Linked DNA regions of Homo sapiens: regions 2, 3 and 4 are each linked to region 1. Evidence: fine-mapped expression QTL. A gene starts in region 1. Each other region holds a variant in brackets. All regions are shown on one strand. Distances are from middle to middle.

The links. PIP is the estimated chance that this variant, and not a neighbour inherited with it, causes the effect. A credible set is the group of variants that fine-mapping cannot tell apart.
Region 2: its variant is the best candidate, but not a certain one, in a credible set for the expression of LINC02367 in lung (TOPMed, PIP 0.81).
Region 3: its variant is the best candidate, but not a certain one, in a credible set for the expression of LINC02367 in visceral fat (GTEx, PIP 0.59).
Region 4: its variant is the best candidate, but not a certain one, in a credible set for the expression of LINC02367 in ileum (GTEx, PIP 0.69).

What each region holds. Positions count from the first base shown.
Region 1 is chr12:9,364,765-9,369,994 of GRCh38, forward strand. LINC02367 (long intergenic non-protein coding RNA 2367) reads left to right here and starts at 2,700. Exons shown (of 4, transcript NR_120479.1): 1 at 2,700-4,832. RefSeq lists an enhancer at 1-241.
Region 2 is chr12:9,390,572-9,396,059 of GRCh38, forward strand. LINC02367 (long intergenic non-protein coding RNA 2367) reads left to right here. Exons shown (of 4, transcript NR_120479.1): 3 at 3,960-4,086; 4 at 5,148-5,488. Among named protein-coding and RNA genes, the nearest start is that of LINC02367, 26 kb to the left of the region's middle. The variant C/CT (reference allele first, on the strand shown) is at 2,219.
Region 3 is chr12:9,300,311-9,305,541 of GRCh38, forward strand. LOC642846 (DEAD/H (Asp-Glu-Ala-Asp/His) box polypeptide 11-like) reads left to right here. Exons shown (of 22, transcript NR_024374.1): 10 at 784-936; 11 at 1,918-1,964; 12 at 2,313-2,392; 13 at 3,665-3,709; 14 at 3,830-3,897. Among named protein-coding and RNA genes, the nearest start is that of LINC00987, 63 kb to the left of the region's middle. The variant C/T (reference allele first, on the strand shown) is at 3,307.
Region 4 is chr12:9,424,903-9,430,390 of GRCh38, forward strand. It overlaps LOC124902873 (a long non-coding RNA gene), which reads left to right and starts at 1,489. Exons shown (of 2, transcript XR_007063206.1): 1 at 1,489-1,732; 2 at 2,678-5,488. It also overlaps the pseudogene DDX12P. The variant A/C (reference allele first, on the strand shown) is at 2,573.

The sequences.
Region 1 (5,230 bases):
GATGAGCTCTGATTGATTGGTTTCCAAGCCCTAAACTGGGAGTCTCTGTCAGACTGTGGCTGGCTGGTGGTGGGAGGGGCCCAGCAGCAGTTTGTCCTGGGAGCAACAGCAGGCGCTGGTTTGGCTTGATTGTGAAAAGAGGGGTCCTGTGATGCTCTTATATCTTTCTGAGAACACAGAGTATGTGATCGCTCCCACACCCGGCTGTAGCCACTGGGTTTCTGTTTTAAATATGAGTACCTCAGTGAGTCATAGGGAGTCCATTTGGTCTGTGGGCTGTGAACATACTTTAAACAATCCCAATCCTGTTCTCTCTTGACAAATCACTTTCTTTACCCAAATACAGATACTGGAGTACGTGTCTTTCCTCCCCTTAAGGACAGTACCTCTTGGGCTTACTTTAGTTAGCCCCACCTAGGAGAGAGCCTGGCACATGTTAGGTCTTAATAAACACTGAGCAAATGAATGACTGAGTTGTATGAGACATTTCATTTACCCTCCCCGGCTCCATGCCTGGGAGGAATGAGCTACCTCTGAAGATGGGTAACGTCTTGAGATTTTCACAAAAGAATATAAAGCTAGCAAGTCAAAGACAGTGTGATACTGCTTTAATTTTAGTTTAGTTTTTTTTTTTTTTTTTTCCTGAAACACAGCACATTAGGAGTTGAGATGATGGTATTGACTGTCCTTGTGGTTTGTGTGCAATTTTTAACCAGGATTCATGGCTGGGGAAACAAAAGCACTTCTTTGCTTGCATAACTTTTTTCCCTTCCTTTATTACTTCAAAGAGGCAAGATGTGGTTTGCATTCATTTCACTGCTAATATTGCTCTCAAAGATCGCTAAAGATCTCTTCTCCCCTTACACATTCCACTCATTTATAACCCAGATCCTCAGTGTGGCTAATGGAGGGTCCCTCAGCCCTGTAACTTCTGTGCATGAAGCAGTAGGTAGTGGGTCCAGTTATGTTAAACATTAGGTAATATCAGTATCTTTTAACCTTACTATGAGAATCTTAAAGATGGAAGCATTAGCCTCTGCTTATGATTGCTGCAGGCAAGAATCTGCACCAACCCTCCCAAGAGTATAAAGATCATCACCGTCACCGTCACCATTGTAAGGTCACAGCTCTTCACAGTTCACTTATCTTTTTCCTAGTTATTCTCCCTCCTAATCATTGCCAAAGTCTTGGGAGATAGGTGTGAATCCTTCTAGGACGCAGCTGAAAAAGTTAAATGTCTTGTCCTAGAGCACACAGCTCAGCAGCACCAAGAATGAAATGTTAAATCTGGTGTTTTTCCCTCTCTGCTGTAGTGAAGCTCTGCTAGAGATTTACCGAAGTCCTTGATATTTTAACCTAGCTATCAACTTCAGCCCAGAGAAGGTCTTCCAAAAGTAGATTCCAAAAGTATATTCATCCATCAACCATAACCTTAAATCTGAAGCCAGGAACTAAAAAGAAATTCTCAAGGTAACACAATTGTCATGAAGTCTCACTCCCAGGGCCAATTATAATCTGGATTTTTGTCTTCATCCTTCCAGGTGTCTCTGATCCCACTGTAAGCAAACCCTGAGTCCTAGGGCCTTTCTTCCACTTATTTCACTCTTTCTGTACACATTTTCCAGTACCTCCACCACTCACCACCCTCCAAAAAGAACTGATCCCTAAGCTTGTGCAGTGATTAACGATTTTCATGTCTTTTCTATTTGCCTGCAGTTATGCTACAAGATCTCTTGGCAAAGGACTAGCCAGGCATGCCTAATATATACATTCGTGTGATTTAACAAACTGGTTTCTACCACTTTCGGCCTGAAGTGACAGTGTTTTTTAACGTTGGTTGCAGGCAGGGGACTGTTGCCCCCTGCCAAGCACTTCAGCTTCCTTGCCCGGCCTCTCCTTGGCTTCTGTCTGTCCCCACCAGCAGCTCTTCATGGGACCCATCCTGACCCTCCAAGAAAGCAGAAAAGGAGGTTCCTGATGCAAAACCTAAAGAGCTTTCATCTGAGGAAGGTGAATCCTTTTTAAACTATGAGGCCTGGAGAGACGTTAAAATGAGAGCAATCACACCCTACTCCCCGCTTTGAGCTATGTATTCATCTCTTAAAACTGCTTGCTATTGCCACAAGTAGCTATGAATTAATTTTAATTTAGGATTATTATAGTGTCTCACCAGAAGCATAAACCACATCCTATAACTTAACAATAACCAATTGCTCATCAATTTTGTTTCTGTAATCCAAAGAGAGTTCCTGATCAACAACTTTGTACCAGCCCACTCTCTCGGTCCCAGTCTTTTGTTTTTAAAAACCTGCTTGGAACAAAGGCTCTAGGAAGCTCACAGCCAAGAGTACTTGGGTCTGAGTCTTCCAGGCAGCTGTCCTCACTTTGGCTCAAGTAAACTCTTTAAATTATGCTTTGCGTCTCAGCCTCTGCCTTTTGGGTCAACACTGAGGGGAGTAAATGAATGGCACCTGCTCCTTCTCTGTCTGAAGCTTGGACTTCTCCTGAGAGGACTTCCTGCTCCAAGATAGGAGGGAGTCTCACTCAGAAGAGGAAGGAGCTCCTGTCTGCTGAGGACACGGTTCCATCCAATGAGGTCAGCAGGGCTATCAGCAGCTTCCGTTAATTCCGTTGGGGCAGGCGTGTGGCAAGCAGCAGTTATTTGAGCTGAGGATGCTGGGATGGATTTTCACATGAGCAGTTGGCCCTTAGATCATGAGACCAGCCTAAGTGCCCAAGGAAATGGAACAGCAGGGAGGGGGAGGGACATCACACCCACTATCAAAACTTCTTGTTAGTCTCTGGCTTCCACATCCTTCCCCAAAACTTCAGCCCAATTCACAGCCGCATTTTTCCATCTCTTTGCCATTCCTCCATGGGAGAGCTTTCTGTTGGTACAGGAATAGCTGAGAAGTGGGAAAGATCAAGGGTAGTAAGAGCTGCCCCCGATAATCTACAGAAAGCTTTGCTGGAATGAGGTTGTGCATCTCTGAACCTGAGCTAGATTTGTTGGGTCAGGGACCATACTTATTTACTGGCCCAAGAATTAGAAGAGGAGGTGTCTAAGAAATGCTTGTTGAATGAATAAATAAACAGCCGAGTGAGTGTTTATATGAGCCTGAAAACTGCCTGCACCAGCACAAAAGTAAAGCCCCAACACCCTCAGGTCACACCTACTGGAAAAATATATGTCAGCCCCAGAAAAATGTGGGCAACATGAGGCAACTCCGGAGCAACACAGGAAACTGCCCTCCTCTTCTGGCCCCTCTTCCACTGTGATGCTCAAAGTCTGTGATGACCAAGTCTGGTCATCTAATCAGCAGGATATAAGAGGGTCATTCTTCACTGCGGCCATTCCAGTTTCCTGGAAACTTGGCTTTCTCCTGACCGTTTCCCCAGGAGCACGGTGGTGACAAGCTTGAGCTCTGACATCAGAAAGTCCCCAGTTTGAAACCTCTAGCTTCTTACTCGCTAGCTATGAGACTTTGGGCAAATTAATCTCTAAACCTCAATTTCTCAATCTGTAAAATGTTCAAGGTCAAGCAACTCACTTTTCCACATTGTAATTGATGAAACTAAAATTCAGACTCAGATCTGCCTCACTCCACAGTCTGTGCTTTTTCCTTCCCACTCATCTTTTTCTCTTTCTATTAAAAATTTCATAACACATTTGAGATTCTGTCTCAACTCATATCACTGAAATCATCTGTCACGTCTGATGATCATATAGAAGCCAGACTAAGATTCAGCCACAAATGTTATGCCTAAACATTTCTTATTATTTCTTTTTAATGTTTCTCATGTATACAATCAAACTCGCACCCTAGTATTATTGGCAGGCTAATATATGCCCATGAGACATGTAGCTTAAATCTCTATGGGATAGGATAAGTATTCTCCCTTTGTTTGTGATTTGAAAGCTTTCCATGGATGCTAAAGCGATTTGTTAAAATACCTTCACCTGTAAGTGTTTTTCCTCTCTTAAAAGCCTAATTCATCTCTGAGTTTGTTTACTAAAATAATCTAATTTGCTCATTTTCTCTAGCCATTCCAAGCTAAATCCCAGGAAGTACTAAAGAAGCAATGCACAGACACAGTATCATACAATTTGAGACACAGTATTATAAAATTGATGTGAACTTCTAGGCACAGTGTGCTCACAGTCTGTCTGGAAATAACTTTGTAGCAAGCATAGTTCCAGTCTAGCTGCCTGGCAGCCTGGCAGGATATTATTATTACTGATACTAATTTACTTTTTAATGTAAGTCTACCCAGAATATATTAAAGAAGTTTCAAGAAATCAGGATCATGGATTATAACCTGACGTAGTGCTAAGGAACCATCAGTTCCATGTAAGCATTTGGTTAGCAAGTCTTTTTCAAAGGCCATGCTTGAGAAACAGTTTTGCTCTCCCAAACAATGTGTTGTAGTTTTTTTTAGCATACTACTGTGCAGATAAATAAATGAGATATTAATGCCATTGCAAGTTCTGGCTTTGTGTAGAGTTTTCTAGTGAAGCCTGTTTAGGATCCTGGATTTGTCCAAGCTGTTCTGATTATCCCATCATTTTTAACATGGATAATCTACAATCTTTCATCTATTACATAAATTGAATTCTGGCACAAGTTCAACTGCTCTTCATTGAAACTGAGAAAAATTTTAGGATCACTTTGCTGGAATCCAAAGAAGATGTTAAATACTACCAAAAAAAAAAAAAGGCTGAAAACTGGTTTCCAAGAATCTCTGGGGCATCCTTAAGAACTCCCCTTGCATGTTCATTAGACGGCCCTTTACCCAATGTATCTCTAATAGTCTGCTGAAAATACTCAAAGGCAAGTAATTTTCATGTAATCAACTAAACAAAATGTTTAACAAATATGGCAAATATTAATATTTTTAACTGTTTATGTAAAGTGCAAGAGAGTTATTGATTAGGAGAGTAGCTCTGAAGCCGAACAGCCTAGGTCTAAATCCCGGTTCTTTCATCAACAAGCTCCATTACTGTTGATAAGTTATTTGAATTATCGGTGTCTTAGTATCTTTCCTTATAGAGGTGATGATTGCTCCTACCTAATAGCACTGTAGCAATCATATATGCAGAGCTTATCACACTAATTGACATTCAAAAATATTAGCTCTTAAAAAATTATTATTAGAAATTTGAGAAAAAGAATCACACTAAAAAAGGATAAAAGGCATTGAAAATAATTCCCCCAAAAGAAAATAAAAA
Region 2 (5,488 bases), 26 kb after region 1:
TAGGAACATTCCAATTCCACTCTTTCAGTTATTTTGAAATATACAATAAATTATTAAGTACAATCACCCTATTGTGCTACTGAACACTAGGTCATAATCCTTCTAACTGTATTTTTATACCCATTATCCATTTCCTTGTCTTTTTTAACTTAATGTAGTGTGAGCATTTCCCCATCATCAAATATCATTTTATAAAATTATTTTAAATAACTGCATTTATAAAATAGCCACATTTTATAAAATTATTTTAAATAACCTCACTCGTGAATACTGGGGTAGCTGGGGATAAATTTTTAGGCTCATTGTTATTGTCCCTCAAAACGTGGAAGTTATTATTCCATTGTCTCATCTACTGCTGCTGATGATTTAGGCTCATTGTTATTTTCCCTCAAAACGTGGAAGTTATTATTCCATTGTCTCATCTACTGTTGCTGATGAGATGTCTGCTGTTGGCTTGGCAATCTTTTCTTTGCAGCAAATCTTTCTTTTTTCTTTTAACCTTTTGGTGTTTCCTCATTTTTTAAATTTTTTCTTTTATCCCAATGTGTCTAGGGGTTTATCTACTATCTAATAAATAAATATGTATTTTTAATCCTGTAAAAGACTTGATGTGCCTTTTCAACCCAAGGGTTATCTTTTTTAATTCTGAAAAATTCTCAGCCATTGTCACTTCAATGATTACCTCTTGCCCAACTACTCAATTTTTTTTTAATTCCCCTTAAGCACATATTGGAGTAAAACTCTATTTTACTTTGCTCATCTTTCTACATATCTGTGCTGTAAATTGGTCACTCTGTCTTCCAATTCACTCATTCACTCTTCAGCTGTGCCTAGTCTGCTGTGAAACCTATCTAGAGAGTTGTTTAAATCAATCTCTGTTTTTCTGTTTTGGACCCATTAACAAAAATACAGCTCCATGTTTCTTTTATGTAAAATGCTGTATTTACCTTAAAGTTCTTCTTTTAACTTAATTCTTTTCGATAGTTTAACACACATAAGTTTATGAAACAATACGTACACCTCAATGACTTGTCACAAAGGAGTATCTATGTCATCATCATCTAGGTTAGAAAAACAAAAAAGGACACTGCCAGCACTCCAGAATCCACCATTGCGATGCTCCCTAGTCTCTATTCCCTCCCAAGGTGAGGATTAACCTGACGTTTATTATATAAAAATCACTTGGTTGATTTTCTTTAAAGTTTTTATTTTGAAATGATTGTAGATTCACAGAGAGTCACAAAAGTAGTAGACAGAGTCCCTTGGATGCTTTACCCGGCTTTCCCTAACAGAACAGCTATCTTACAGAACAGCAGGACACCATCAAAACCAGGGCATGGGCATTGTCTGACTATTGTTAGACTACAGACCTTATGCAGTTTTCACAGTGTTTGCATGCACTCCTTTGTGTGTGTGTGTTCTATGCAAGGTGATCTCATGTGTAGTATCCTGTAACCACTTGCACCAACTGTCCTTGCCAAAGAACTGTTTCATCACTGAGAGGAATTCACTTGTGCTACCTCTTTTTAGTCACATCCTCGTACCTTGTCCCTGTCTCCTGGCAACCACCAATCTGTCCTCCATCTCTATAGTTTTGTTAGTTGGAGTGGAACAGGAATTAAAAGAAATTAAAGAATGTGTAAGCAAAAACTCAGTTGTATGTAAGAAAACCCAATTCCCCCTGAGGAAGAGAAAGAGCTGGAGTCCTTTAAAAATTAACTGCCTGTTTTTCTGTGGCTAGTGAGCCTTATCTCTCCCTTTCCCAGGCATTATGAAGACCCTGTTTCTCTAGCTGTGCAGCTCCAAGGTCACTAGACAGATAAACTCAAGTTGTAAAATATGTTTTTCCTTGAAAAGTAAGAAATAATGTAATGCAAGTCTCAATTGAATAACTGTCTTTGTTTCTCGCTTCTGTAATATGCTTCCCCCTGCACAAATCTTCCCCCACCCATGAAATGCTTAAAAGGTAACTTGACTCTTTGTTCGGGGCTCAGTCCTTTGGATGTTAATCTGACTGGGCCAATGCACCTAAATAATAATAATAAATCCTCCTCAACCCCTCGGTCTCTCTGATTCCTAAATTATCCCACAACAGGAGAATGTTTTATACATGGAAGCTTGTAAGTGTAAAACCTTTTAGAAGATTGGCTTTTTTCATAAGAGGAAGTTTTTTCTTTCGTCAACAAAAGCCAAAAGCCAATCTTCAACAAAAGATTGG[C/CT]TTTTTTCACCAAGTTTCACGCTCTAACAAAACCTCCAAGTTTTTGCCTGTATCAATAATTTCTTGCTTTTTATTCCTGGGTAGTAGTCTCTTATATGGATATGGTAGAATTTGTTGAGTCTTTCACCATTGAAAGATATTTGGGTGGTTTCCAGTTTGAGGCTATTTTGAATAAAACTTTTAAGAACATTGATGTACAGGTTTTTGTGAACCTGCTTTCATTCTTCAGGTTAAATCCTGAAGAGTGAAATTGCTGAGTCACATAGGACATGTACCTTTGGTTTTATAAGAAACTGCCAAACTCTTTTCCAGAGTGGCTATACCTTGTTCAAGTGATGCCAGTGATGTGTGAGTTGTCTGGTTTCTAAGCAATCTTGCCAGGATTTGGTGTCATCATTGAGCTTATCCTTTCTAACAGACATAGCGATACTTCATTGTTTTAATTTGCATTTCTCTAATGGTTACTGATGCTGATCATATTCACTTGTGCTTATTTGCTGTTCATGTTCTTTCTTTGACAAAATGTCTTTTCATGTCTTTTGCCCACTTTTACACCGGATTGTTTTTTTAAAAAAAATGTGTTGAATTTTGAAGGTTCTTCATAGATTCTACATACAAGTCCTTTGTCAGCTATATGGTTTGCAGGTGTTTTCACTCAGCCTGTAGCATGTCTTTTCATCCTCTTAATAAGATCCTTCACAGAGCAAAAGTCCTACATATTGAGGAAGTTCATTTTGTCAGTATTTTCTTCTACAAATTGTTATATTGGTGTCATGTCTAACAACTTAGTCTTGAATATTTCTCCTATGGTTTCTTCTAAAAGTTTCATAGTGTTACATTTTTTATTTAAATCTGTGCTCCGTTTGAATTAATGTTTATATAAAGGTAGGAGCTTTAGGTTGAGGTTCAATTTTTTGCTTATGAAAGTTCAATTGTTTCAGTAGCATTTGTTGAAAGATTCTCCTTTCTCTATTGAGTTGTCTTTGCAGCTTTGTTAGAAATCAATTTTCCATGTCAGTGTGGATCTATTCCTGGATACAGTCTGTCCCATTGATCTCTGTGTCTATCCCTTTGCTGGAATCACACTGTCTTGATTACTTCAGCATTGGAGCAGAACTTTAAAATTGTGTAGCATCGCTTTTCTGACATCATTCTTTTTTCTACCTTTTAATCTTTACATGTCTTTTAAAATCAGATTACCTGATATACAACATATCCTATGGTGGGATTTCGATGGAGTTGTATTAAAAGTATAGATCAATTTGGGAAGAATTGAAGTCTTTATTAAGTATTTCTACCCATGGATCCATGTATTTCTTCATTGATTTAGGTCTTCTGTGATTTTGTTTACAGCATTTTGTACATTTTCAGCATACAGATCTTATATAGACTCAATCATTTCATTTTTTCAGAGATAGTACAAATGCAATTATTTTAAAATGTTGATTTTCTGTTAGTTATTGTTAGTATATACAAATTAAATGAGTTTTGTATTTTGAACTTGTGCTACTTCTGGAATGTGTGTGTGTGTGTGTGTGTGTGTGTTTGTGCACGTGTTTATGTAGTCCTTGGAATATACCATAACCAAGTGGGTTCTTCCTGGGAATGCAAGACTGCTTCAATACTTGAAGATCAGTCAATGTAATCTGCCATAGTAATAATCTAACAAGAAAATCAACATGATCACATCAATTGATATAGAAAAAAAATTTACAGAATTCAACATATTTTCCTATTACAGATTTTCTGCAAACTAGGAATAGAAGCAAGCTTCTTAACCTGATGTATCGCACCTTCAAAAAGCCTACAGCAAACATCTTACTTAGTGATGAAAAACTGATTGCCTTCCCCATAAGATTGAGAACCAGGCAAGGATGTTTACTCTCATCACTCCTATCCAACATGGTACTGGAAGTCCTAGCCAATACAATAAGGGAAGAAAATGACACAAAATAAAGGTAGTAAGATTAGAAAGAAAGAAATTGTCTCTATTCACAAACAAGGTGATTTCTTTTCCTTTTTCTTCTTTTTTTTTTTAAGAGACAGGTTCCTTCTCTGTCACCCAGGCTTAAGTGCGATCATGGCTCATTGTATCCTCAAACTCCTGGGCACACACAAACAGTCCTCCTGCCTCAGCCTCCCAAGTAGCTAGGACTACCGGTGCATGCTGCCAAGCCCAGATAATTTTTTTTATTTTTTGGAGACACAGGTAGTCTCATTCTGGTTTCAGCTCTGGAAGGGGCGAAGAACAAGTCCCCAGAGCCCATCCTGTCCCTCGTGGATGACATACTGAGGGCTCAGGAAGACGCTCCCTCACAGCCTGCCCCAGTTTCCAGGCTGAGCCACCTGAGCAGCTGCTTCGGAAAGCCTCTTGTGCCATAGCCATGCTTAGGAAAAAGCATATCTTCCATTCAATTCACCAAGAAACACCAAGAAATAACTGGATACAAAGAATAAAAAATACTCTGGTGTGGCAGGGCAGGAGGGTGAAAATTGTGCCCCCTCCAAAGGTAATGTCTATAAAAGGATAACTAAGGCCAGCGCCAAAGTCCACCTACAGAAGGCGGGTCTGTCTCAACCCCAGCTGTCAGTCACTGTGAACCTTTAGAACTGGGGCTGAAGCTTCTTCCAGTTGCTTGCTCAGATGTCAGTGAGACCGCTCCACAACAGATAAGGGGAGCTGTGTGTCAGGGAAGTCCCAGCCACTAGGACAAGCTGCACTCCAGGCAGCTGTTTCTGTTCTTGTGCAAAGAACAGCGCAATCCATTCAAGTTCACAGGGGCGGGTGGCACTTGAAAATGTCAGGGTCAACTTGCAGGGCAGAAGTTAGCAGGGAAGTCTTCCTGGGGGAGTGGGAGAGCCCAGCAGAGTTTAGGAGGAGGGAGGGGCGACATCGGGGCAATCCTCTGAGTCTCTCTTTCCTCCTCAGGAACTGTCCAGGAAGACCCTGCAGTCTCTCTGCAGGCTCATGGGAGCTCCCAGAACTGAGACAACACACGGATCCAGGCCTGCTTCGAAGTCAGTGGGATGCGGCCCTTGAAAGTCGATGTATTGGGTTCCTAGGGCTCTCGTGAAAACATGCCACACCTGGCTGGTTTTAAACAACAGGAGTTTATTCTGTCAGTTGAGAAGGCTACAAGTGCAAAATCAAGGTATTGACGGGATGAGTTCCAACTAGAGGCTGTGAGGCAGATCAACTCCATGGCTCTCTCCTGGCTTCTGCTGGTTTCTGGCAACCGTTCACTTCCCATGCCTGGTAGACACATCACT
Region 3 (5,231 bases), 64 kb before region 1:
CTATAGGCATTTATACACAAATACCATAATATGGCCCAAAATCTTTACGATTTTTGAATTTGTAAAGTACTTTGACCATATTTTGCTTTTATGTTAATAGTATTCCAGTGAAATTCCGTGCATGGGGACACTGGAGCCCAGAAAAGTTAAGTGACTCATATTTTCTCACCAAGCGTGGGTGATGGAGCCATTCAGTTTTCCGATATTTTATTTTTTATATGAGTATTCCTTTAACTGGAAACTTTCCTAACAACAAACACCTAAAGACCTGCAGAGTTGCTTTTATTTTTGTTACCCCAGCTCCACGCCTTAACCCTCACTTTGAAATAGGATGTATCAACCCTATTTTGCAGATGAGGAAAGCAAGGGTCAGAGAGGTTAGACAACTCTTCCAGAGTCACACAGCTGGGAAGTAGCAGCTCCAGGAGCAGAAGCTGGGGCCGCTTCCTGGTGCACCGATGGTCTTCAGGTGTTTTGTGGAAACTCGGGGGCCTCCGGGGCGACCTTGAGGACATGGACAAGGCTAAGCAGGGGTTCCCTTCACCCAGCCCTGCCCTTGGTTTACTCAGGAGTCAGACCAGCCCTAGTTTCCTGTGTTTCATGTATTGGCTTTTCATGTGAAACTCGAGGAGAGCTTGTCCGTTGTCAGAAGCTGTTTTTTGAACGTCTCTACACAGTCCAGGCAGGAAATAGAAGCACTCACATCAGGAGCTCAGTGTCAGGCAGGCAAGCCTCCTGCAGGGGAGCCCCGCCCTGCTCAGGTGGCCTCATCTCCCCTCCCAGCTGGTGGTGCTGCCCTATCAGATGCTGCTGCATGCGGCCACTCGGCAGGCCGCCGGCATCCGGCTGCAGGACCAGGTGGTGATCATCGACGAGGCGCACAACCTGATCGACACCATCACGGGCATGCACAGCGTGGAGGTCAGCGGCTCCCAGGTGCGTGGGCCTCCCCTCCCCAGGCCAGGGCCTGCCGTGAGGTAAAGGGACTTGGATGGTTCCTCCAGACACCCGGGCCAAGAATTCCTCCGGAGGTGGGGCTTGCTACAGGGTGCACGAGTCAAGGCGGTGACCTCATCGGAGGCTGACCATGGCTTTCCAGTGCATCCCAGAACTCTGGGGACCCCGCTATGACAGAGTGCCTCATTTCCCTGCACCTCACCTGCCCCCATGCTCCTGAGTCCCTCCAGCCCTGGATGCCAGCAGCCAGTTCTGCAAGCCAGGGAGATGGCATGTGTGAGGCAGAAGTCCCCTCAGGATTGGATTTTGTCATTACTGAAGTTGTCTGGAGGGGACTGAATTGAGGAATGCTCAAGATCAGTGCAGGCTCCTCCTGCTGCCCTATCATGCGCCATGCATGGCACCAGGTGTCTCTGGTCTTCACGCTGACTCTGCCATGGGGGTGGTGTTCCTGTTTTACATTGGAAACTTGGAGATTCAAAGATGGTCAAGCTCTGTCCTGAGGTCATGCAGCTCATGAGTGTGGAGCTGGGGTGTGCCCACTGGTTTCTGACTGTGAAACCCCCACGACATCCCACCAGCTCTACTGACCTGTGCCTGGGCTGAATTGAGGCTGGGATGTGATGGTGACCTTGAACCATCACTCTTTGTAGACTCCAGGTCTTTTCCCAACCCGGTGGAAACTAGCAGGCAGATTCCATACTTGAGGAATTCAGCCTCTTGCTTTTTCTCTGACCCACAGTGGACACTGGAGGAAACCTTCCCTTCCTTCCCTTTTCTCTTAGCTCCCACCAGCCTAAGGGCTGTGGAAACCAGTACCTTTTGTCTGCACCCAGCCCCCTCTCCTCCCTTTGGTGGCTTCCTGTGTGTCCAGGGCTAGCATCTTCTAGGTGAATCTAAGATGTCAGTACCTTAGCCCTCGGCTGCTTGCTCAGAGCCTGGTTTGTGTTCTTTCCCCAGCTCTGCCAGGCCCATTCCCAGCTGCTGCAGTACATGGAGCGATACGGGTGAGATGTGACTCTCTGAGGTAGTGGGACAGTCCCTTGGTGGCCCCCTGCATGGGCCTCTGAGAGGCAGCACTTTGGTTCCCACCTCTGGCCCGTGCTGTGGCGGGGTGGAGCTGCATGCCATTCATGTCCTAGGCACATGATGGTGTGTGCTGCACACAGACCTGGAAGGCTGGGGACTGACCGCTGGCTCTGAGGCCTGGGGCCGTGGCCAGCCTGCTCTCTGGGAAAGGATTTGTAGCTTGTGACCCAGTTTGAGAGGCACCGGGCAGCAAGGCTTCCACTGGGGTGGGCGGGGCGAGTCGCCATCAGGGCACCACCACTTAATGTCCGTTGGCTTCTTCTCAGGAAGCGTTTGAAGGCCAAGAACCTGATGTACCTGAAGCAGATCCTGTATTTGCTGGAGAAATTCGTGGCTGTGCTAGGGGGTGAGAGCCTCGCCCCCCGGCTAACCCCCGGCCTGCAAAACCCACCGGGCTGCTTTTTCCTTGGATGCCCATCAGGACGCCTCAGTTCTCTGTGTTTTTAAGAAGGGTCGGCCGGGTGTGGTGGCTCACACCTGTAATCCCAGCCCTTGGGAGGCCGAGGCAGGTGGTTCACCTGAGGTCAGGAGTTTTGAGACCAGCCTGGTCAACATGATGAAATCCCATCTCTACTAAAAATACAAAAAAATTAGCTGGGAGTGTTGCCGTGGCCTGTAGTCCCAGCTGCTCCAGAAGCTGAGACAAGAGAATTGCTTGCTCAAACCCGGGAGGCGGAGGTTGCAGTGAGCCGAGATTGTGCCACTGCAGTCCAGTCTGGGCGACAGAGTGAGAGTCAGTCTCAAAAAAAAAAAAAAGAACCAAAAAAAAAGAAGGGTCTTGGTCATTGATTTAGAAAATTCTTGTTCTTTGTAGCTTAGTTGAGTTGTCTGACTTGAGCTTTTTTTAGACCCATGGGTTCTTTGCCCATGTTCTGAGGACTTTTTATTTCAGGCGCTGCTCTGGGGGGATATTAAGGATACAGCATCACATGGACACACGGTGTTTCCGTGATAGGCATAGTTCTGTGGGTTGTTCGAAGCACTTGCATATGCGGTTTTGTGTGCCCTGTGAGAACGCAGTGCTGGTATTTGAATCCTTGTTGATAGACGCATAAACTAGAGCTCGGAGCAAGGGCTGCTCCCAGCACGGGAGCCTGGGATCTTCTGACTCCAGCTCCCACGCCTCTTTGCGTGACCCTGTCACGTCCCCTTCTTTTATGATGGGGCACCCCCTTGCTGGAAGGTGTCTGTGGAAGTGGAAGCTGCAGAAAGCCTGTGGGAGCTCCTGGCGGGAGCTGGTCTCGTGTTGCTGCTCTGAGC[C/T]GCCAGCTCTGCTTTGCCTCAGGCTCACCAGTGGCCTGGGCAGCTCCTCTGTGCTCCGGTGCCCTGCATACCTTGGTCTGGCTGCTGTGTCCCGGCCTCCTGGAGAAGGGGTGAAAAACATGAACTTACAGGGCTTTGGGTTCCACGTGCAAGCACGTGAGTCAGACGTGGGAGGCTCCTGGACCCACCTGCCCTCTAAGTGGGTCCGTTGCATGCTATAAACAGTGAAAAGCAAAACAAAGCCGTTCAAATACAGATGCTCTTCTTACTTGATGTGCAGTGTGGAGGGAGAGAAGATAGGGAAGGGTTGGGGGGCCTGAGAACCACCATTGTGACCTATTTCCATTCTCTTTTTTAGGGAACATTAAGCAAAATCCCAATACACAGAGTCTGTCACAGACAGGTAAGAGAGTTGCCCTCAGAGGGCCCAGAGCTGATCTGAGCCACTTCCGAGCTTAACCCTGGGACTGAAACCTGAGGCTTAGGGTGAAGCTCCCAAGGCCCTTCATGTGTTTGTTCTCAGGGACGGAGCTGAAGACCATCAACGACTTTCTCTTCCAGAGCCAGATCGACAACATCAACCTGTTCAAGGTAGAGGTTTCCACCTTGCCATGTTCCACATCCAGTTTCCTTCCTGTCACCACCTGTGGGTAGAGTACTATGTTAAGACTATAGAAGGAAGAAAAAGCAAAACAGACGTGTAATTACTTAACCCTTAACGCAACACGCCTGTGAGACAAAAGTCATCATCTTTTAGAGTGAAGGCCACAGGGATGAGGGATGGGTGAGAAAGGGACCTTTCTTGGTGCCCCATAGAACAGATAGAGACTCCAGGTCCTTGCTGTCTCACCCCATCTTCTGGCACAGTCTCCCTCAGGCTTATGGACAGGAATAGGACGTTGATTTGTTCTGTGCAACCCCTGTCACGTCTTCGCACTTGGGCCTTGGGTGTGGTTGCAGCCTCAGACCTCTGCTCGCTCCAGGTCTGTGTACCCAGCGCTCCCCAGATGAAACACGGCCACTGCCGCCTGAACCCCCAGCTCGTAACTCAAATCAGCAACAGTGACTGCCCCTGGGTACAGGGTTCTGCCTCTGTTCTAGGCGGCATGCCACGTGCTGTGCTCTGAGCTAGGATATCCTTTTGCCCCGGCAAGGAAAGCAAACAGGCCCATGGAGGTGACTTCAGGAGGGTGGCGAGCACAGGCTTCCCACAAGTGAGCCAATAGCAAGTGGCAGAGACAGCGTCCAAACCTGGCTGCACTGACTTGGGGCCCCACATTCTTCCCATCGTGCCTGCCTTTTTTTTCTTAAAACCAGCTTTTCCCCTGAATTACACATTTGGGTCACTGTCACTGCCACCATCCCTGCCAGACAGGCTGGATCCACGTCATCCTTGATGCCTTTCTCCCCTTGTCTCCCACATGCCTGTGACAGCCGCCAGGCCTGACAGCCTCAGACAGTCCTGCCGTCCCCGCGCTTCTCCCACAGCTGGGACATGGGTGCAGGCACTCCTTCTCTCGCCTTCCCTTTGCCCTCCTTGCTTTCCTTCTCCCTTCTTCCCATGGGTCTCGGGTCTCATCACCCACCATTGAGGGAATCCTCATCGAAGGACGTCGCTCTTTTTAGAAACCGGTTTAAAGCCTCCAAACTCCTCATCTCTGCATCCCAAGCTAAGATGTGGCACCAAACCACACACATTGGATGCACCGACTGAGTGGCACTGCCCCAGCCCCTGAGCAGGTCCCAGCCATCATCTCCTCTGTGGCTTTGCTCATAGAAGTTCCTTTGTTTTAACTCTCTGTCACCTGGAAGGAAAGCCAAGGGGACCTAGATTTTACTGGGCACTCTTAGACTTGGGAGAGACATTTGGAAAGAGGGTCTCCCCCCTGAGGAGGACACTGCGTTGTGGGCAGGGGCAGTAGAGG
Region 4 (5,488 bases), 60 kb after region 1:
GCAACCTCCACCTCCTGGGTTCAAGCAATTTTCCTGCCTCAGCCTCCCGAGTAGCTGGGACTACAGGCACCCACCACCACACCCTGCTAATTTTTTGTATTTTTAGTAGAGACGGGGTTTCACTGTGTTAGCCAGGATGGTCTCGATCTCCTGACCTCACGATCCGCCCCCCTCAGCCTCCCAACGTGCTGGGATTACAGGCGTGAGCCACCGCGCCCGGCCTATCCTCTCCATTTTCATATGAGGAAACTGAAGTTGAGAAAGAAAATAGTCCAAATCACAAGGCTCATAGATGACAAAATCATGACCCAAACCAAAGCCCACCTACCCCACAATACAAGTTTCCCTAGGACCCCTGCCCTAGAGGACCTCCATCCCAGCCCCTCGATCTCCTCCCGTCCACCTCCACTGCTTGCCCAGGTCACAGCAGGCCAGTGCCCACTGCACTGCTTCCTCCTAACCCAGGGAGTTCCCAGGATGGAAGGAAAGAATCCTTTCATGCTGCGGCTCCCGGGCTCAGCTTGGCTCCTTCCTGGGAACTGAACCTGGCCAAGAACCACCTGATTACCTTGGCGGCTCAGGATGACCCTGCCGTCCTGGTTGGCCGTAGTGAGAGCTGCCAGGAAGCCTTCGATGTGCATCAGTGGGGAAGCTGGTTGCGGGACGCTGGCCTGACTCTCGTCTGCAGGGGCTGCAAGAGCTGCACAGAGCAGAATGGGGAGGAGGCCTCCCTCTTGTCAGGTCCACACATGAGGAACAGAAGTCCTTGCCCATGCGTGCAGCCGGCTCTGCCTGCTCACCCTCCTGCCTCACCTTCAGTCGTCCTGGGCTGCAGGCTCTGCAGGAATTGCTGAAACCCAGCCAGTTTGGGCTGCTCCCGGGATGAGAACACTGCTCCGTACCGTTCAGTGAAGCCAAAGAGCTGGGTGGGATGAGAGAGAGCAGTGGAGAGGAACGAGGAACAGCCATGAGAGAGAGGCTGGGTGGATCGGAGGCTCTGCCAGGCCCAAGACACCTGCAGCACGCATCCCACCACCTCAGCAAGGCCCACTGCACCAAGGAGGGTGGAGATGAAGGGGACTCTGGAGTTTCCTGAGGGCAGGGGAGGAAAGCATGGCAACGGCAGGGGGTTGGGGCACAGCTGGGTCTTGTTCAGGACCACAAGATGGGAGCAGTTACCTTTCTGCTGATCATGCTCTTCTCACAGTATCGCTGCACCTGCAAAAACCAAGCCCAGCTGTAGGCATGTGTGCAAACTGAGCAAGCTGTAATCTTAAACACAAAACAAAAAACACCACTTCTACCACCCAGGCAGCACAACGCAGTGCTACCTTCTGAGGCACCTGGAGCCTCCTTGCCACCAACCTTGTCATCCCCTCTCCGAGGCCACCCCCTCCTCTACTGCCCCTGCCCACAACGCAGTGTCCTCCTCAGGGGGGAGACCCTCTTTCCAAATGTCTCTCTCAAGTCTAAGAGTGCTCAGTACAATCTAGGTCCCCTTGGCTTTCCTTCCAGGTGACAGAGTTAAAACAAAGGAACTTCTATGAGCAAAGCCACAGAGGAGATGATGGCTGGGACCTGCTCAGGGGCTGGGGCAGTGCCACTCAGTCGGAGCATCCAATGTGTGTGGTTTGGTGCCAGATCTTAGCTTGGGATGCAGAGATGAGGAGTTTGGAGCCTTTAAACCGGTTTCTAAAAAGAGCGATGTCCTTCGATGAGGATTCCCTCAATGGTGAGTGATGAGACCCGAGACCCATGGGAAGAAGAGGGGAGAAGGAAAGCAAGGAGGGCAAAGGGAAGGCGAGAGAAGGAGTGCCTGCACCCATGTCCCAGCTGTGGGAGAAGCGCGGGGACGGCAGGACTGTCTGAGGCTGTCAGGCCTGGCGGCTGTCACAGGCATGTGGGAGACAAGGGGAGAAAGGCATCAAGGATGACCTGGATCCAGCCTGTCTGGCAGGGATGGTGGCAGTGACAGTGACCCAAATGTGTAATTCAGGGGAAAAGCTGGTTTTAAGAAAAAAAAGGCAGGCAGGATGGGAAGAATGTGGGGCCCCAAGTCAGTGCAGCCAGGTTTGGACGCTGTCTCTGCCACTTGCTATTGGCTCACTTGTGGGAAGCCTATGCTCGCCACCCTCCTGAAGTCACCTCCATGGGCCTGTTTGCTTTCCTTGCCGGGGCAAAAGGATATCCTAGCTCAGAGCACAGCACGTGGCATGGCGCCTAGAACAGAGGCAGAACCCTGTACCCAGGGGCAGTCACTGTTGCTGATTTGAGTTACGAGCTGGGGGTTCAGGCGGCAGTGGCCGTGTTTCATCTGGGGAGCGCTGGGTACACAGACCTGGAGCGAGCAGAGGTCTGAGGCTGCAACCAGACCCAAGGCCCAAGTGGGAAGACGTGACAGGGGTTGCACAGAACAAATCAACATCCTATTCCTGTCCATAAGCCTGAGGGAGACTGTGCCAGAAGATGGAGTGACACAGCAAGGACCTGGAGTCTCTATCTGTTCTATGGGGCACCAAGAAAGGTCCCTTTCTCACCCATCCCTCATCCCTGTGGCCTTCACTCTAAAAGA[A/C]GATGACTTTTGTCTCACAGGCGTGTTGCGTTAAGGGTTAAGTAATTACACATCTGTTTTGCTTTTTCTTCCTTCTATAGTCTTAACATAGTACTCTACCCACAGGTGGTGACAGGAAGGAAATTGGATGTGGAATGTGGAAAGGTGGAAACCTCTACCTTGAACAGGTTGATGTTGTCGATCTGGCTCTGGAAGAGAAAGTCGTTGATAGTCTTCAGCTCCATCCCTGAGAACAAACACATGAAGGGCCTTGGGAGCTTCACCCTAAGCCTCAGGTTTCAGTCCCAGGGTTAAGCTCGGAAGTGGCTCAGATCAGCTCTGGGCCCTCTGAGGGCAACTCTCTTACCTGTCTGTGACAGACTCTGTGTATTGGGATTTTGCTTAATGTTCCCTAAAAAAGAGAATGGAAATAGGTCACAATGGTGGTTCTCAGGCCCCCCAACCCTTCCCTATCTTCTCTCCCTCCACACTGCACATCAAGTAAGAAGAGCATCTGTATTTGAACGGCTTTGTTTTGCTTTTCACTGTTTATAGTATGCAACGGACCCACTTAGAGGGCAGGTGGGTCCAGGAGCCTCCCACGTCTGACTCACGTGCTTGCACGTGGAACCCAAAGCCCTGTAAAGTTTATGTTTTTCACCCCTTCTCCAGGAGGCCGGGACACAGCAGCCAGACCAAGGTATGCAGGGCACCGGAGCACAGAGGAGCTGCCCAGGCCACTGGTGAGCCTGAGGCAAAGCAGAGCTGGCGGCTCAGAGCAGCAACACGAGACCAGCTCCCGCCAGGAGCTCCCACAGGCTTTCTGCAGCTTCCACTTCCACAGACACTTTCCAACAAGGGGGTGCCCCATCATAAAAGAAGGGGATGTGACAGGGTCATGCAAAGAGGCGTGGGAGCTGGAGTCAGAAGATCCCAGGCTCCCGTGCTGGGAGCAGCCCTTGCTCCGAGCTCTAGTTTATGCGTCTATCAACAAGGATTCAAATACCAGCACTGCGTTCTCACAGGGCACACAAAACCGCATATGCAAGTGCTTCGAACAACCCACAGAACTATGCCTATCACGGAAACACCGTGTGTCCATGTGATGCTGTATCCTTAATATCCCCCCAGAGCAGCGCCTGAAATAAAAAGTCCTCAGAACATGGGCAAAGAACCCATGGGTCTAAAAAAAGCTCAAGTCAGACAACTCAACTAAGCTACAAAGAACAAGAATTTTCTAAATCAATGACCAAGACCCTTCTTTTTTTTTTTTTTTTTTTTGAGACTGACTCTTACTCTGTCGCCCAGACTGGACTGCAGTGGCACAATCTCGGCTCACTGCAACCTCTGCCTCCCGGGTTTGAGCAAGCAATTCTCTTGTCTCAGCTTCTGGAGCAGCTGGGACTACAGGCCACGGCAACACTCCCAGCTAATTTTTTTGTATTTTTAGTAGAGATGGGATTTCATCATGTTGACCAGGCTGGTCTCAAAACTCCTGACCTCAGGTGAACCACCTGCCTCGGCCTCCCAAGGGCTGGGATTACAGGCGTGAGCCACCACACCTGGCCGACCCTTCTTAAAAACACAGAGAACTGAGGCGTCCTGATGGGCATCCAAGGAAAAAGCAGCCCGGCGGGTTTTGCAGGCCGGGGGTCAGCCGGGGGGACGAGGCTCTCACCCCCTAGCACAGCCACGAATTTCTCCAGCAAATACAGGATCTGCTTCAGGTACATCAGGTTCTTGGCCTTCAAACGCTTCCTGAGAAGAAGCCAACGGACATTAAGTGGTGGTGCCCTGATGGCGACTCGCCCCGCCCACCCCAGTGGAAGCCTTGCTGCCCGGTGCCTCTCAAACTGGGTCACAAGCTACAAATCCTTTCCCAGAGAGCAGGCTGGCCACGGCCCCAGGCCTCAGAGCCAGCGGTCAGTCCCCAGCCTTCCAGGTCTGTGTGCAGCACACACCATGATGTGCCTAGGACATGAATGGCATGCAGCTCCACCCCGCCACAGCCCGGGCCAGAGGTGGGAACCAAAGTGCTGCCTCTCAGAGGCCCATGCAGGGGGCCACCAAGGGACTGTCCCACTACCTCAGAGAGTCACATCTCACCCGTATCGCTCCATGTACTGCAGCAGCTGGGAATGGGCCTGGCAGAGCTGGGGAAAGAACACAAACCAGGCTCTGAGCAAGCAGCCGAGGGCTAAGGTACTGACATCTTAGATTCACCTAGAAGACGCTAGCCCTGGACACACAGGAAGCCACCAAAGGGAGGAGAGGGGGCTGGGTGCAGACAAAAGGTACTGGTTTCCACAGCCCTTAGGCTGGTGGGAGCTAAGAGAAAAGGGAAGGAAGGGAAGGTTTCCTCCAGTGTCCACTGTGGGTCAGAGAAAAAGCAAGAGGCTGAATTCCTCAAGTATGGAATCTCCCTGCTAGTTTCCACCGGGTTGGGAAAAGACCTAGAGTCTACAAAGAGTGATGGTTCAAGGTCACCATCACATCCCAGCCTCAATTCAGCCCAGGCACAGGTCAGTAGAGCTGGTGGGATGTCGTGGGGGTTTCACAGTCAGAAACCAGTGGGCACACCCCAGCTCCACACTCATGAGCTGCATGACCTCAGGACAGAGCTTGACCATCTCTGAATCTCCACGTTTCCAATGTAAAACAGGAACACCACCCCCATGGCAGAGTCAGCGTGAAGACCAGAGACACCTGGTGCCATGCATGGCGCATGATAGGGCAGCAGGAGGAGCCTGCACTGATCTTGAGCATTCCTCAATTCAGTCCCCTCCAGACAACTTCAGTAATGACAAAATCCAATCCTGAGGGGACTTCTGCCTCACACATGCCATCTCCCTGGCTTGCAGAACTGGCTGCTGGCATCCAGGGCTGGAGGGACTCAGGAGCATGGGGGCAGGTGAGGTGCAGGGAAATGAGGCACTC